Linked DNA regions of Homo sapiens: region 1 is linked to region 2. The links come from fine-mapping of genetic effects on gene expression. Tissue or cell type: whole blood. Region 2 holds a variant in brackets; the other region holds the start of a gene. All regions are shown on one strand. Distances are between the middles of the regions.

Region 1 (8,337 bases), 37 kb before region 2:
AAAAACAACGTGAGAAGTGATGTTAGGATCTCAGTTTTATCCATGAGGATGGTGAGGCTTAAAGAGGTCACATAAAATGCTCAAAGTCACTCACTGGTAGAGAGTCCAGACTATCTGGATTTAAAGGTGTTCACTTTTATGAGCCTCTTTGCACAATAGGAGAGATTTTCAAAAGTGCAATAAAAGTGAATAGGAGAGATAAAAATAGCAGAGTTTGTGGGCATCAGGGAGGGAGGGTAAGCTGCTGGTTGGCACTCTCGGAAGGCTCATTGGAGGAGGTAGTGTTTGAGTAGAATTGTAAAGGACAGACAGGGCTTCAACTGGCAGATGCTGGAAGCAGAGGAAACTGCTGAGCAAAGGCCCAGAGTTCAGGGCACATAAGCAGAGTGATGAGTATGCAGACCAGGAAGAAATAAATGATCCCCATAATTCTCCTTTGCTGCAAATAATAATAATAATGATAGAGTTGAAGTGCTTACAAATATTACTAGCAGCAATATGAATTTAAAGAGTTCTTTGGGGCAATCATGAACATTAAATGTTGTGCAGAATATTACGAATAAGTTTGTGAAGCAATGGGATTAACTGAAAAATAATGAATTTTATATTCACCTCCTTTTTAAAATCCATGTGTAAGGTCATTAACATCTGCTTTCAGAAGATAAGAGATCTTGTTTTAAGATAGCTGACTGAGTTAAAAATCTGACTTGAAGCCATTTTGTGCCCTTTTAACAATGTACCAAATTTAGTTTCAATTAATTCCACTCCTTGGAAGGTTATGCACAAATTTGAACCACAATTATATTTAATTCAAGAAACTGAGTTAATTCTAAGTGCCAGGCACTTTCCCAGGTATAGAGATGCAAAGAATTATAAATGGTGGTTGTAGTCATCAAGGAATTCACAATCTAGTAGGGAAACAGGTAGATATTTAAATCTCTGTAATCAAAATGGAAAAGCAAAAGTATTAACTATACCTGGAATATGGAACTGTTGGCTGGAGGAGATGGAATGAGATTCCTTCTCTGCCATCCCAAGAAGCATCATTACAATGATGGCAGAAGTCAGTAAATGGGATATGAAAGGAGAGGGGCCAAGACAAATTATGGAGACCCATTAGTTCTATATAGTGCTGGACCAGATCACCAGATCACAAGCCAACTTCCTGGCTGGCTAAGGAAGTCAGAGTTGTATGGAGTTGGAAGAAGATCTGTAATGTTTCCATGGTTCTGAACCTGGTCTCTGAAATCCTATATTCAGCTCTAAAAGTAAGGAAGTTGCCACAAAAGCAGAAATGGAAACCACACGTGCCAATAAAAACAGCTCACAGTTTCTGATCACCCACTACGGGCTAAGCACTTCAACAGAAAATGAGTATTATATTTAGACTTCTAGTTAGTGGTCCCTAGGAACCATTCTCCCCTTCTTCCTTTTAGTAATAGACTCCCCACTGAACTTCAGTAGAGCACATACATGCCTTTCCTACTACAAACAATATTTTCCAGCCCTCCCTGTAGCTTGATATGAATGTGTGACTTAGTTTTTACCAATGGAATGTGAGTAGAAGTAATATATACAACTTTCATGTCACTTCCACAGAACAGATTTGCTTTGGCTGGGCATAGAGGTTCACGCCTGTAATCCCAGCACTTTGGGAGGCCGAGGCAGGAGGATTGCTTGAGCCCAGGAGTTCAAGAACAGCCTAAACAACACAGTGAGACCCTGTCCCAATTAAAAAAACAAATCGATTTGCTTTCCCTCTGTTTCCTTGTTCCCGCTTTCCACGGCTGGGATGCTAACATGGTGTTAGCGCTGTGTAGAGGCGGGCAACAGCTACAGAAGAGCCTGGCAGCAAAAGAGAAAACCTGGGTCCCTGGACAACTGTATGGAACTGAGAAGCCACCACCTCCTCTTGCTACTGCCTTCTGTCACTGCTCCTGGTGGACCTGCCTTTAACCTTTTCTTTCCTGTCACCAAAGAACAAACACACACACAAAACAACATTGTAGAATTATGCCTGGGTTAAGAGAATATAGGCCACAGGTGAGGACATGTAAGAGACTTTTATATGTAAACTGTACAAGCTTTAGTGAATTGATGCTATAAAAATTATGTTCGCTTGTTTGGAAACCTTTGTTGTTTACATCCTGGTTTCAAATGACTAAAGTTACCTATTAGATATCCTCCAGGGGAGGGAAAGGTCATTGTATTCAGCAAGGGCAAACTGGTTCAACAATCAATTTCCAAATATTTGCATGCACTAGATACCAAAGATGGAAACACACATGATCTCTGCCCCCCAAAGATGTTGACTGGTGGGAAGAAGTGCCAATATAAAAATAGTGTTGAAAGGATTTAGTTAATACTATTGGTTGCACACAATCACACATCTGACACAAACTGGTTTAAGGCAGAAAAAAAGATCATTTATAAGCTTATGTAAATATGCAGTCCAAGAGTAAACCTGACTTCAGGGATGTAAACCCTACTGGATGAGAATCTTCATGGATGGGGCCTGGAAAGCTGTATTTTTGCCCCATCCTTATTTCCTACCAGGTAATTGTAATTCTGTTTTGGAAATAACTATTTTACGTAGATCATTCAAGTTGAAAATTAGATATTACACAGGGAGGAGAGAGACTGCAGGAGGAGACGATTATTCCTGAAGGGATGAGGGAATCCTGAACTCAGGCAGGAGCACCCCTTAGCACATTATGGGCCATGATGTCTGCTTGGTACTTACAACGGGGCTAATGCTGGCACCGGGAGCTTTGAAGGGGTGTCAGCAGAGGACCGTGCCAACTGTCTGTCAGTAAGTCTAAGGGTTCACGATCCTTATGAAAGTGGCTGCCACTTCCCTTCACCTAACAACTATTTATTGTGCAACTACATACCAGGCAGTGAGCTAGGCAGTGAGGACACACAGGTTCACAGGCAAAGAGCCTCTCTTCATGAAGCTTACATTCTAGACAGGAGATAGTCAGTAAACAATCAGAAAAACAAGCGCGCTACTGACTGTGTTAAGTTCTCTAAAGAGAAAAACCCCTTCACTCTATAGTTCCTAGTGCAGGCTGACATTGAATGGGATAGAGGAAAGGCCTTCGAGTTGACAACTTAGTGGAGAACTGAGAGGTGGGAATGAAGTAGTGGTTTGCAAGGCTGGAGTATGAGCCTTCCAAGGAGAGGCAATAGCAAGTGCAAAGGCCCTGCAGTGGGAGGGAACCAAGTGGGGTGAAGACACAGGAAGGATCAAGTATGGCCAGAGATCAGTGAGAAGGAAAGAGTAGAGTAGGATAAGTCTGAAGAGGCTGGCAAGAGCCAGTTTATGGGAAATCTTGTAGGCCCTGAAAGTTTGGATTTTATTCCACACACAACAAAGTGTTTGCTTTAAAAGGAATCTCCTGACTACTGTGTGGAGAAAGTATAAAATTAAGTTTGGGGCTAGATGGACCCCAAGATCCCTGTCTGGCCCCAATAACCCATGGCAAACTCCATGGGGTCCTCAGAAGTCCTCTTAGTAACTGTGGCTCCTATGTCAATGATGCTTAATAGAAGTATCCGCAAAAACAGAAATGTTCTGTATCTGCATACAAGTGGCTCTTGAACTGGAAATGTGGCTAGCGTGACTGCAGAACTGGATGTTAAATTTTATTCTATATAGACTAATTTATTTACGTTTATATAGCCACACGTGGCGAATGGCTATTATATTGGACAGCACAAGGCAACACTGAGCACCGAATGCCTGAGGATTTCTACTCCAAATCCTGAAGGCACGCCCTTCCCCGAATGTTGGGAGAGTGCGAGGATATGCTGACCCCCAAACGCAAATCCCCCTCTGTGCATTTAGTCTTGCCAAGATGGAGAGTCTCAGGCGGGCATTCTGAGCTGCTTCTTGTCACTGGGGAAAACCACGTGCACGCAGTGCTGAGGCGCCCCACGCGCGTCCTCAGGGGAAGCCAGGCACTGAGAACAAAGGTTGTGGGACCGCTCTTTGAGGAACTCACCAGCTCCGCGAGCTCGCGGCCGCCAGCGCGGTCCACCCATTGGCGGGAGAGGACTCACAGACCGCAGCTCCTCACCCCGCCTGCTCCGCAGCGGGACCGCGTAGACCTCAGCTCCCCGAGCAGCGCAGGTGGGCCAGGGAAGGAGAGGACCGAGGCAAGCCACCACGCGGGATTAGGGGTACGGGGACCCCTCGCCGCGCAGTCGCCTCTTTTTCACAGGGATGGGGGCAGGGGTGGCGCCGGCTGTCACCCGCACCGGATCTGCTTCCAGGGCTTGGTTTCGCTTTGCCTGGCTCTTGGCTAGGCCTGGCGCCCCGCGCGGAGCCGAGCAGGTGGCAGCCGAGGAGTGGCGGGGGCTGGAACATTTAACCCTTTGGGAGCACCTGCCCTCTCCCAGAGGGCGCGTCCCCGGATCAGGCCCGGTGCCCCGCAGCGCGCGTGGGTCCTGGCTGGCTGGAAGGAGGCCCTGACCTTGCTTTCTCTCCCGTGCCAGGTCTGCCAAGGACCATGGGTGCCGCGCTGGGGACAGGCACGCGGCTGGCTCCCTGGCCGGGCCGGGCCTGCGGCGCCCTCCCGCGCTGGACACCCACCGCGCCCGCCCAAGGCTGCCACTCCAAGCCTGGCCCGGCGCGCCCTGTGCCCCTGAAGAAGCGCGGATACGATGTCACCAGGAACCCTCATCTCAACAAGGTAATGGGCCAGAGGGCAGGACGGCCCGCGTTGCGATCCCGTGGCTGCCGGAAAATTGCGCCCCGCCCCCTGGACCCAGAAAGGATCCTCCCGGGCGCCCTTCCAGCGGTTTTTCTGTTTTTGCCTTGCAGGGGCTTGTTGTGACTTGGTTTGGCTTTCTTGTCCCTCCTCTCCCTTTTATGCGTGGAGAGAGGCGACCAGTAATGCAGGGAGCCTAATTTCTTCTGCAGTAACAACACAGACCAGGTTTAGATCCTCGCGGTCAGTCTGACCTGCGGTCAGCTCTCCCCTTGATGCTTACTAATTTTATTGGTCTTGGGCAGTTCATTTAACCTACATGAGCCTAGGTTTCCTTATCTGTAAAAGAGATATAATTGTCTTAGGAATGTCGTGAGATCTAAAGAGAAAATGCGGGTAGAAAATGGGGGTACGTTAGAACAGTGCCTGGTACCCAGTGGGAGAATAAATAAGGTTATGATTATTATTCTGAGAAAAAGATTAATTTGAGAGCAAGGATGGAAAAGTCTAGACTTATAGAAATTTTCGAGCTTGCAGGAGCATTAGAGATCCTAGTTTAAACCTCTTCTTTTACAAAAAACAAGACAAAGGAAACTTGCCCAAGGTCACCAGCTAGTTAGTTCTGGCTCTGCCACTGGAATCCAGATCTCCAATGCTTTGGTCGAGTTCAACCCACCGCTAGCTCTTTTGTATTTGTTTTTGGGAATAGAGTTTAGTATCTTTGGTTCAGAGGATTGGGTGAGAGAAATAGAAGCAAGGACAGATTTAGTCCTGTCTCCCCCTACCTCCTCAAATTAACTCACATATCTCATTTAACTTATCTGAGGCCCAACTTTCTCCAGCCTAAAATAGATATTATGATAGACCCACCATTTCTATCTCATTTGGTTATTGTGACAATAAAATGAATCACTGAACTTGAAATCATATTTTAAACTGTATAAAGTGCTGAATAACAATTACTGCAAAATAAATTTTTTTTTCATAATTGCTCTGACTCTGGATTGTGAAATTCAGGTGAGGCAGTCTGTATGGAAAAGATGTTTTTGAGAAGTAGGAACAACTATATAATGTGAAGTATTGTGACTGTTTCCTACAGAACTAATAGAAGCGGCTAAGGAAAAAAAAATCAAAATCAACCTCTATCACATTGGAGTCCTGCTCTTTCCAAAAGAAACCTTAAATTGTTTGGACGCTACCACTTTCCAAAGTGTTCAAGGTGTTTGTTATCACCTTGAATTACTTTGCTAGTAAGCGTTAGAAAATACAAACTGGCTTAAGCACACAAAGGCTCCTTTATCTAAAGAATCTAGAGGAAGGGTTGCAGGCACGGCTTGAACCACAAGCCCAGATGGCATTGCTCAAGATGCAGATTCTCTCTGGCTCTCTACTCTGCCTCTCTGCAAGGTCAGTTTCATCCTCAAGCTCTATTCAGTGAAGTCTCTCACTTCGTTATTGCCACAGTCCTCCATCTCCTGTTCTCACACCACATCATCCAGGAATAGAAAGATACTTTTATTCTGGTAGCTCTTGGGGAAGAGAAAATACCCTTTCTCTGACGCCTCAGAAAGCGAATCCTTCTGCCTTATTGACTCTGATTAGATTCTCTCTTCCCATTCCCAAACCAAAACCAATCACCAGTAATTAAAGCCGGTCAGAGCCCACCCCTGGAGTTAAAATGGGGTTTAAGGTAGGGCCACCCACACCATCTGGCTTGGAATAAAGGGAATATAGATCCTCACAGTAAATATGGATAGTGTCATCAGAAGGAGGAGGAATGGATGTAGAAAGCAAAACAATAAATTCCCACTACAGGCTCCAATCATTGTGAAAATAATTGCCTTAGAATTACTGGCATGTTACCAACCAGCATTTATTGCTTTGTTAAGTAGTTAAGAAAATGAAGGAAGATCTTTAAGTCTTTTTTTAAAACCTAGGTTTTGGTCCCCTGAAATCATTCTTGCCCCTGTCGTTTGCCTCTGATGTAAATTTTTTTCTCCCAAGTACTATAAATAAGTTGTTGATATGGTTTGGCTGTGTCCCCATACAAATCTCATCTTGAATTATAATCCCCATAATCCCCACGTGTTGTGGAAGGAACCCTGTGGGAGGTAATTGAATCACGGGGGTGGTTCCCCTGCATGCTGTTCTCGTGATAATGAATGAGTTCTCACGAGACCTGATGGTTTTATAAGTGCCTGACACATTTCCCCTGCTAGCGCTCATTCTCTCTCCTGCCACCCTCTGAGGAGGTGCCTTCGCCATGATTGTAAGTTTCTTGAGACCTTTCCAGCCATGTGGAACTGTGAGTCAATCAAACCTCTTTTCCTTATCAATTACCCAGTCTTGGGTATTTCTTCACAGCCGTGTAAGAACCAGACTAATACAGGTGTTATCCATAAATCTAAGGACCTGACCTTTCCATGATGTTAAACAACATCTTTTATATATTCCTGAAGTCAGCTGATGCTTGTCTGGGATAAGAAGGGTATCTAGAAGGAGGCTGACAGCCTGTTGGCATCCCCTATTCACTCACCCTTGGGGACAGAAGGGGAGCAACAGAGGGAGTGCTTCCTGGGAGTTACTGTGAGTGCCCTTCTCTTCCCACTGGAGTGCCACCCTCTGGCTGTTCTGTTGTCCTCCAGTGCTCAGAGAGTCTCCATGGAAGGCTTGAGCCTTGGTACTTTGCATCAGCCAGGTGGGAAGATAGTGCTGAGGTTAAATAGAACAATGAGGTTATTACTGAGGAAGCAAAATGGAAGTGCAGTTTTGAAAGAGTCTTCAATGCTGTGCTTAGTGTTCATGTCTGTGGGTGGATTTTTTTCTGTTAGAAGGAGAGCCCTTCCAGGCCAGGTAATGAGATTCGTCCACCTGTGTTTGGCATGGGGTAGTGCCTGAAAGATCTAGCTTAACATTAAATTCTTGGAATGTGTTCACTAGATTTGCAGCTCATTTCGACAGATTAGGAGTGGCATTTAAGTCGCAGCTGTATGACAGAGGGTGGTCAGGAGGTGGAATTATCTGAGAGAAGAGGTGCCGACCAGGGCAAGCATTGCTGCTATTGTGCATTCACTGGGTTCTGGTACCAGCTCCATCATGCTCTGGCCATGTGATCTGTGATGAATCTCATAAGCTCCTCTGCCCGTGTTACACTACTGCTTTGAGGATCATAGGAGACAGCCCCCATGTGGTAAATATTAGGTGATAATGAGGATGATTTCCATAATTGGGGTAGGAAGGCCCCTCAGAGATGATCTAGTCTGGAATTGTTCAGACTATGAGTTACAAACTATGAGACATGAAATTAGCTTAGTGGATCTACCAGCAATTTTTTTAAAGAAATGTATTAGAATGAAATAGAAAAATAGCAAATGCATTGAAGTTAATAAAGATGGATATTTTATCAGGTCAGCATGTAAAATGACTATTTTTACTGTGGATTGTAGTAACAAAAAGTTTTTGAAAATAATTGTTCTCATCCAACATTTTCATTTTCCAAAGAAAAGAGAAGCCAAGGAAGAAGCCAAGCAACTCCACAGAGATTATCATTGGTCATAGAAGTGGACAGAGGCAGCCTGCCTGCTGTATTTGAGTCTACTGAATAATGATGGCAATTCACAAC
Region 2 (8,337 bases):
GATTCCCATCAGCTCTGCTCACTCAATTGTCTCATACATCCTGCCCCCAATCACCCACTCATGCGAAACGTAGTTGGAAGACTGTGTCCCAATTATCTGCCCTTCTTAGAGACTTTCAACCACGTAACCCTGAAAGCAAAACTATGTTTATAGCCTAATTTGAAAGGATATTCAGGTTTCTTTTACCTTGAAGTTTTCTGCTTTAATGTGGGGCTTCATTTTTACTCCATTTAGCATCTCAGTTTGTAGAAAATAGGAGGCATGTCTGCTCCAGATATCATCAAGATCAACACAACTGAGTTTATGAGTGATTTTCTCATCTGAGAGAGAATTAGCTTTGAATCCAGACCCAATAGAAAGCTCAGATCCAGGATTCTAGGAGAGGCACCACCACACAAGGGTATCCTCTGAACCCTTGCTTTGGAAGGCATCATTTTATATCCTGGATACGGATGCTTAGATGTATGTTTTTGTGCCAGGAGGAACTGGTTATGGCAATGTGTGGGGGAGATGTTTATCCTTTGGATGAATATTTGGGTAGGAGGTTTGTGTTTCAAGAAACTGAGCACTAATTGTAAATACAACCATTTTGCTGTGATTGACTCACTTCTTATTCATTCTTTTATAGGATCTTGTGGAAACACATTATGTACATTAGGGAGACTCAGCTCATGCATTTCCATTGAATAAATCTGCTAAAGGAAAAGGCATTACTCCTCCAGCTCCTTTTCAGACAGGCAAGAATATAAATCTTGTGATTAAAACAACAATAATAACAGCAAACTTTTGTGGGGAACCATTAATTCCTAAGACAGGAGATCTCAGACAGATGTAGTAATAAGAACATTTGCCACGGAGAGAGAAGACATTAATATAGAGTGAGAGGCTCTGCTGTGTTACCTGCAAACTTCTATTTTTGGGGTATTGTAGTTGATAACCCAAGGCTCCTTCCAATCTAACATTCTCTAGAGATAGAATGGGCATGATGACAGTGATTTCTGGTGGGGCTTTCCAGACAGGTTTGGAAGTACAGTGGTTCACATTTTGATGAGGAGGCAAGTCGGGGGAGTAAAGTGGAAGGAGCTCAGGCTTAGGAATTCAAGGGACATGGATTTACATCCTGACCCTGCCACTTACTAGCAGTGTGATCTTGGGAAGGTTACTTGATCTATCTTTCCTGAAGTTTGCTATCTGTAGAAAGAGGATAACAGTTCTAACCTCCTAAGGTTGTTTTGAGGATTAAAAGAGATATTATAGCTATTTAAAGTGCTTGTTTAACACAATATCTGACACATTGTAGGCCCCCAGTAAATGCTAGTTTAAGCTCCCTTACCCTTTACTAGCAATGATATCATATTAGTAAGAGTTCTAAAAACTTGAAAGATAATGTGTCATCCACCCTTAGCCTACACTTCACATGAGTTTTCGTCCTTTTTTGAGCAAAAGCTTTTATTTTAACAAAGACACATTAAGTTCTACTTATTTATTTGTGTGCTGTGGTTGTGATTTTTTTTTGCATTTGTATATGAAAAATCAATAGTAAATGCTGATTTCCTTTTCCTGTGGCTGTAATTGCTATGTTAATTTAAAGGTCTGATTACAGAAATGAATGCAGCTGTGCTGCTCTTGCACTGCACAGCCCTGGATGTGCTGTGTGTGTACCCAGGCATGCTGCACTCCCTGTACTTACATCATTTAGGAGGAAGTTTCCAGTACCACAACCTCACAGGCAGTATTTAATCACCTCAAACTCTAGCTTTGAGGTTAGCCTGGAAATGAAAAGCCACTTGGGTTTACCACAACAGAAAAGTCAGAGGTACACCATTTCTAAGACAGCATGTGGGGAGGCACAGCCAGGCCTGGGGGGCTCCTGTGGGAAGCTGGGAGCCATGTGAGTTTCATACCCAGGTGCCATAGTAAAGACAGAACCTGCTTCCTTATGTGTGTGTGTGTGTGTGTGTGTGTGTGTGTGTGTGTGTATGCATGAGCATGTCTGCACATATATATTCATATATTTGCACAAATTCATAGATACATTATTTCTACATATCAAGCCTGTGCCCTGTAATCATCAGTGACTATTTTTCTGTGTGTGCAGAGTTCAGGATGTCATCTGGACATTTCTATGGTCTCCGTATCTCCATTTTCCTTATCTCCAATTTCTCCTACTCCCAGTTCAACTTCTTCATCAACCTCTACCAGATGAAATTGGTAATACATGAACTCCCCTTCTTAAAAAGTTTCCTGTGCTTCCTCCCACCTACAGCACAAAGTTAAACTCCTTAGCACAACGCACAAGGCCCTTCTCGAGGGGTGTCTCAATCGAGCCTCATCATCCCTACTCCCTAGTCTGTGCTGTGCGTGCTACACAAGACTCACTGCTCCTAAGTGCACACCAGGCTCTCTTGTTCCACATCTTTGTGCTGCCTACTCCCTTGCTTCTCTTAGCCCTGCTGGCTCTAACATCACTTCCCATGGAAATCTTCCCTGACAGCTCTAGACCAAATATGGGCTTTCTCATTGTGTCTGGGTGTTTATTCCACTGCCATGGCACTTATCACACTGCTGTAATGAGTTTTGCTTTTTTTTTTTTTTTTGTGCTTCTTGTTGTTGTTGTTGTTTACGTATTACCTTCAGTACTATAATAGGATCTCCCAAGGACCGTGATTGTTCTGTCAGTTTTTGTAACCCTAAGAGCCTGGCTTGGTGCTTCACACACATGGCAGATGCTTCATAGTATTTGTTAACTGAATGAGTTAATGGAGACTCCCTGAATGTACGTGTATAGATATTAGTTACGTATAAGACCCACACACTGTTAGTCTTGAAACCAATTGGGGATTCTGGATACAGGCACCATTACTGATTTGCTCATTTTTTTCGCCATTTTTTGCTTCTTTTACTTTTTACATTGATTCAAGAATGATGGCAGGCAAACAGATTCTTAACGCACTTGTCCAGATCTTTGGCTTCTCACTTTCTCTGTAATTCTACTCCTCTGGCCTCACAGCATCCTAAAGCTTAGCTTTTAGACCCTACTCTGCTACTTACCAGCTGCTGTGTAACTATAAGCAAAGCACTTAAGGAGAAACAGAAACTAACCTTCTTAGGAACACCTTCATGTATCTTGCTCATTTAATTCCCATAACACCCTTTTAGATAATCATTTATCAACTCTGTATTTTCAGGATGAAGAAACTGAGGATTTGAGAAGTTAAGTAACTTGTTCAAGATCACACACAGCAAATAGAAAAGCCAGAGTACAAATGCAGCTCCGATTCCAAAACTTGTGCATGTTCTACTGGACTGCTTTGTCCTCTCCAGATCTCACTTTCTCCATCTGAAACATCACCAGGTTGTTAGAGGAGTAAGTCAGGAATGAGGGCTATGCATGCCCTGCAGGCTGTCATGTGTGTCTGGGCATAGGGAATGTTGTCACTCTGGAGGTGCACCAAGGGATGCTTCTCCTGAACCAGTGTTGGTTGCAGTGGTTGGGCAGTGCTCAGCCACTACTCTTCAGTCCTGGCCATGACCTCACTCCCTCTCTTCATGAGTGTTTATGCCAGGCAGTGTCCTAAAAGCATTTCACAGACATTATCTCATTTTAAAGACTATAAAAGCTCCAAGGGGCAAATACCTTAGTTAGTCTCATATAGATTAAAACAAACAAACAAAAAAAAAAAGAAAGAAAAACTGGGTTCAGAGAATGTAATAGGCATCCCTAAGCTCTCACAGAGGATTTAACCCAGAAAGTCTCAAACCAGACATACCCCGCCCTGCCCCCAACACATTT[A/C]CCACTACACTGAATTGCCTCCAATTCCTACAACCCCTCAGAAGCTTCAGGCTTCCATAGCACCCAGGTTTCTTTCTAGGACCCTTGTAGGCTGGTAAATGATCTCTACCATCTCTACCTGAAAATGTGTGAGCTTTAGCCCAAAGCTTCCCAGGATACGGGGACTAGGTTAAACAAAGCAGCCCCAGAAGAACTAGGGAAAGAAATTATCAAGCCAAAAGACCAGGAGTCCAGTTCTGGCTCTGCCATTTGACCAGACTGTGCTTATCTCTCAACTTCCCTAAGTCTGTTTCCTTGTCTGCAAGATGAGTATCAACATCACTGAGTTGTTCTGGGAAATGACATAGGCTGTGTTAGTCCATTTGTTGCTGCTGTAACAGAATATCACAGACCAGGTAATTTAGAAAGGAAAAAAAGTTATTTCCTCACAGCTCTGGAGCTGGGAAGTCCAAGAACATGGTTCTGGAATCTGGCAACAGCAAGCCTGCAAGACAGAGACAGGAAATAAAGTAGAACTCATCCTTTTTTTAGAAACCTACTCCTGAGATAACTAACCCACACCCAAGATAATGGCTTTAATCTATTCTTGAGGGCTCTCATCATCTCTTAATGGTCCCACCTCTTAATACCATTACAATGGAGAGTAAGTTAGTTTCCAATACATGAAATTTGGAGGACACATTCAAACCACAGCAGGCTATCATAACAAAATACCATAGACTGTGTGGCTTATTCTCACAGTTCTGGAGGCTGGAAGTCTAGGATTGGGGTACCATCATGGTTTCTGGTGAGGGCCCTCTCCCTGGCTTGCAGACAGCCACATTCTCACGGCGTCCTCACGTGGCCCTTCCTCAGTGTATGCAGGTGGAGAGAGAAAGCTTTGATGTCCCTCCCTGTTCTTATAGAGCCAATCACCCAATCCTCTTCTTACAGGGCCAAGGCTCAAGTGATCCTCCCACTTCAGCCTCCTGAGTAGCTGTGACTACAGGTGTGCACTACCACGCCTGGCTAATTTTTGTAGGGATTTCATCATGTTGCCCAGGCTGGTCTGGAACTCCTGGGCTCAAACGGTCCATCTGCCTTGGCCTCCCAAAGTTCTGGGATTACAGGTGTGAACCAGCGTGTCTAGCCTGTTCCTAATTTTTTAACGGTGCCTGGTAACATCCAGAACGGAGCAAAGATACAATTTCACCCCTCAAGAATTACCATTTAGAGGTTCTGGGTTTTTTGTTGTTGTTGTTGTTATTCTCACGATTACAAGTCAATTAAAATGGATAATCCTGTTTAAATTAACTTCTATGGTTTGTTATCAATCACAGTTTCAGTTTGTCCTAACAGAGAAGCCAAGGATAGTGTTCAAAGGAACCTTCCATAAGATTTCCAAGAAAGAAGACAATGGACAAACCAGCTGCTATCTATGATGTTTTATTTTCAGAATGAAACACAAAACAAACAAAAAAAAACACAAAAGACCCAGAACCATTTACTAGCATGTGAATGTGATCCTGTCTCTAACTTGAGCCTTCATGCATAGTAGACAATACCCCAGGTATGGGACTAAAATGCTACCAGTCATTCTTTGTTTTTTGGATAATTTTCTTTTGGCAGCATGATAATTTATTTCAAACCAAAGTCCACGACTTTGCTGAGACACAGGTAAGCTGAGCGACAGTAAGAAAGACAGTCTCATGATCTGATTATGAGCTAAGAAAACTGGGAAGTCTAGAGTTTAAAAAGCTGTCCCACGGGCATGCTGACCATTAGCTGACATGCTACTCACAACCAGGATGTCAGGAGGGAGGTTGGGAACATCATAGCAGTCTAAGGAGAAGACAGTCCTGGTGGGGATGACTGTGGTACCCATGTAGAGACATGAACCCAAGCTCTGGCTCCATACAACCCAGTTCATTTGGGAGGGGGATTTAAATCAGGGCCCCCACTTCTGACTGACCAGATGGAGGCATCCCTGAACACCCCTCTCAGGTTTCCCAATCTCTCCTCCCTCTACTCTTCCTTCTCCTTTTTTTCTTCCTCCTTCCCTTCCTCATGCCCAAAATGGCTGTTTGTAGGAATGGAAGGAGAGGGGTGTATTTTGGGAGGGATTTGGGGACTCAATTAATGGAACATATCAAGGTTAAGGGAGAATAAGTGCAGGAAGGAAATTCTGGTTCCTTTTCTTTCCTCCTATCTGGACTCCAAAGGCACCGTCATGGCAGAATCAGCATGGGGCTGTGAGCCAGTGGCCCTACTCTCATCTCAGCTCTGCCACTGATGGTGGGCCTGTCATTTAACTGCGTTGAGCCCAGGTTTCCCCTCTAGATGGTGGACATGTAACCTCCCCAAATGACCCCATGAGGCCCATGGTAGATGCTTCTGTCTGTGAAGTCCTTCATGATTGCATCTGATGGACAGACTCCTCTCCTCTTCCGGGCCCCTCTAGCACGGTCCTCTGTTGCCCTCTGGCCTATAGAACAGCATGCATTTGGGTTTGAGAGCAACCTGGATTTGCAGCCAAGACACCCATGAGAGTACCTTCCTCTCCCTCACAACCACCCTTCTCATACCAATCAAGTCTCAATGTCCCTAAGCGTCCTGTCTAGCACCTTTTCATTTCTCTTATTACATTTCTCCTCCATGCCCTTACTTTCCAGCTATTTTAATGTGCTCAGTGGAATGTGGCATTTAACAGCACGGGCTCTAGAACCAGCATTACCTGGGTTCAGATTCTGACTTTGCCTCCCCAGACTGTGGCACCTTGGACCAATTATGTAAGCATGTTGTGCTCAGTTTCCTGATCTACAAAATAGGGTTAATAATAGCACCCCTCATGTGGCTGTATGAGAGTTAATAAATCAAAACACACAAAGCCCAGGAAAGTACCTAGCAAATAGTAAGTGACTAAATGTCAGTCTGTCACTGTGCTTATGTCCTTGGTCACATCTCTCTTGTGGGTCAATGAGCTGCTTGGAGACTGTAATGTGGCCTTGGACTTTACAGAGATGAGTTTCTGTGACCAGAGAATAAGCAACCAAATCCTCAGCCTGGCCACACAATGCTGGATGGTGACTCAGTGGTCATTACTGACATGCATATCGGACTCACAGCAGTTTTCTGTGGGAACCCTCAACATCCTGACTCTGTGTCCCTGGGCACAGGGGCCGTGCAGTGCTCAGGCGGAGAGTGACTAAGTGCTGCCATCCAGCTGTGGTGGCTGACTCATGCATGAGGACTGAAGGATGTGGATTCTGAAAGCCCTTCCTCACCGTTGTGTTTCCTGTCCATATAGCCCTGCCCCAGGGCCTGGGGCTCCCATGGAGGACCAGTGCCCAGGAGAGATTCGTGTGACTGCAGAGCACCTGGGTTGCCCTGAAGGAAACCACTGGCCTTCAGTATCACTCACTGCACCTGGGCCCACCCAAGGTCTCTGGAGTGCAGTTCTGCCCCTGTGGCCTCCTCTGTCCCCTCCTTCACAGCGCAGGCTGTCACACATGTGGCAGGTTCTCCAACATATGGCCAGAGAATCAGTGTATGCAGTACTGGAGGGGCCTGAGGATGATGTCCAGGGCCATTCCTCATTTTGCAGACATAGAGACTAATGTCTGAGGGAGGCAGGGTCTTCAGCAATACAGTCAGGACTAGAATCCTGAGGACTAATTCCCAAGTCCATGTTCTTTTCAGGAAACCCTGCTAAAGTAAAAGAATACAACTTCTTGGCTGTAGTGTGAGGAACAGGCAGAAGCAGGCACAGGGAAGCGAGTCCAAGATACCTGGCTTACAGAGCCTGCTCTACCCCACCCCCCTTGGCCATTTTGTCTCCCTTCTTCACTCCCCTATTTAGGCTCTCGGATCAGGCAGTTCCCCACTACTTCCCCACAAACTGTGAGGCCCCTGTGAAGCTGCTCTCCCAGAGGCCCTCTGCTCAGGCTGCACTCTCTTGCACCCAGCAGCCCTTGAACACATCACTTTTGGAAGTATCCAGTCCACACCACTATGCTGTTGGAGTCAGGCAGGTCAGAGTTGGAATCACAGAAACTATGTGGCCATGGACAAGGTACTTAGCCTCTTTAAGCCTCAGTTTCTTCATCTGTGGTCTTCTTCATATAGGTAAAATAAAATAATTTGGCTGGGCATGGTGGCTCACACCTGTAATCCCAGCCCTTTGGGAGGCTGAGGCAGGAGGATCACCTGAGGTCAGGAGTTCGAGACCAGCCTGGCCAACATGATGAAACCCTCTCTCTCCTAAAAATACAAAAATTAGCCGGTCATGATGGTGGGTGCCTGTAATCCCTCCTATTCAGGAGGCTGAGGCAGGAGAATTGCTTGAACCCGAGAGGCGGAGGTTGCAGTGAGTTGAAATTGTGCCACTACACTCCAGCCTGGATGACAAGAATAAAACTCTATCTCAAAATAATTTATAACTATCAGAACAGTGCCTGGCAGCCCGTAGGCTTCCAATGTGCCATGCCTGTTATTATTATTGCCTGTTATTTTTAAAGCTTCACTCAAATTGTCTTTATTATGCCCATGGTTCCAGATGCATCAGA

The links.
Region 1: ME3 starts here. The variant in region 2 is fine-mapped to the expression of ME3 in whole blood (TOPMed, PIP 0.97).

The regions. Positions count from the first base shown.
Region 1 is chr11:86,668,122-86,676,458 of GRCh38, reverse strand. It overlaps ME3 (malic enzyme 3), which reads left to right and starts at 3,843. Exons shown (of 15, transcript NM_001161586.3): 1 at 3,843-4,135; 2 at 4,501-4,697. The coding sequence starts at 4,515. RefSeq lists a silencer at 1,178-1,472.
Region 2 is chr11:86,631,610-86,639,946 of GRCh38, reverse strand. The region is part of intron 2 of ME3 (malic enzyme 3); the gene reads left to right. Among named protein-coding and RNA genes, the nearest start is that of ME3, 37 kb to the left of the region's middle. The variant A/C (reference allele first, on the strand shown) is at 3,794.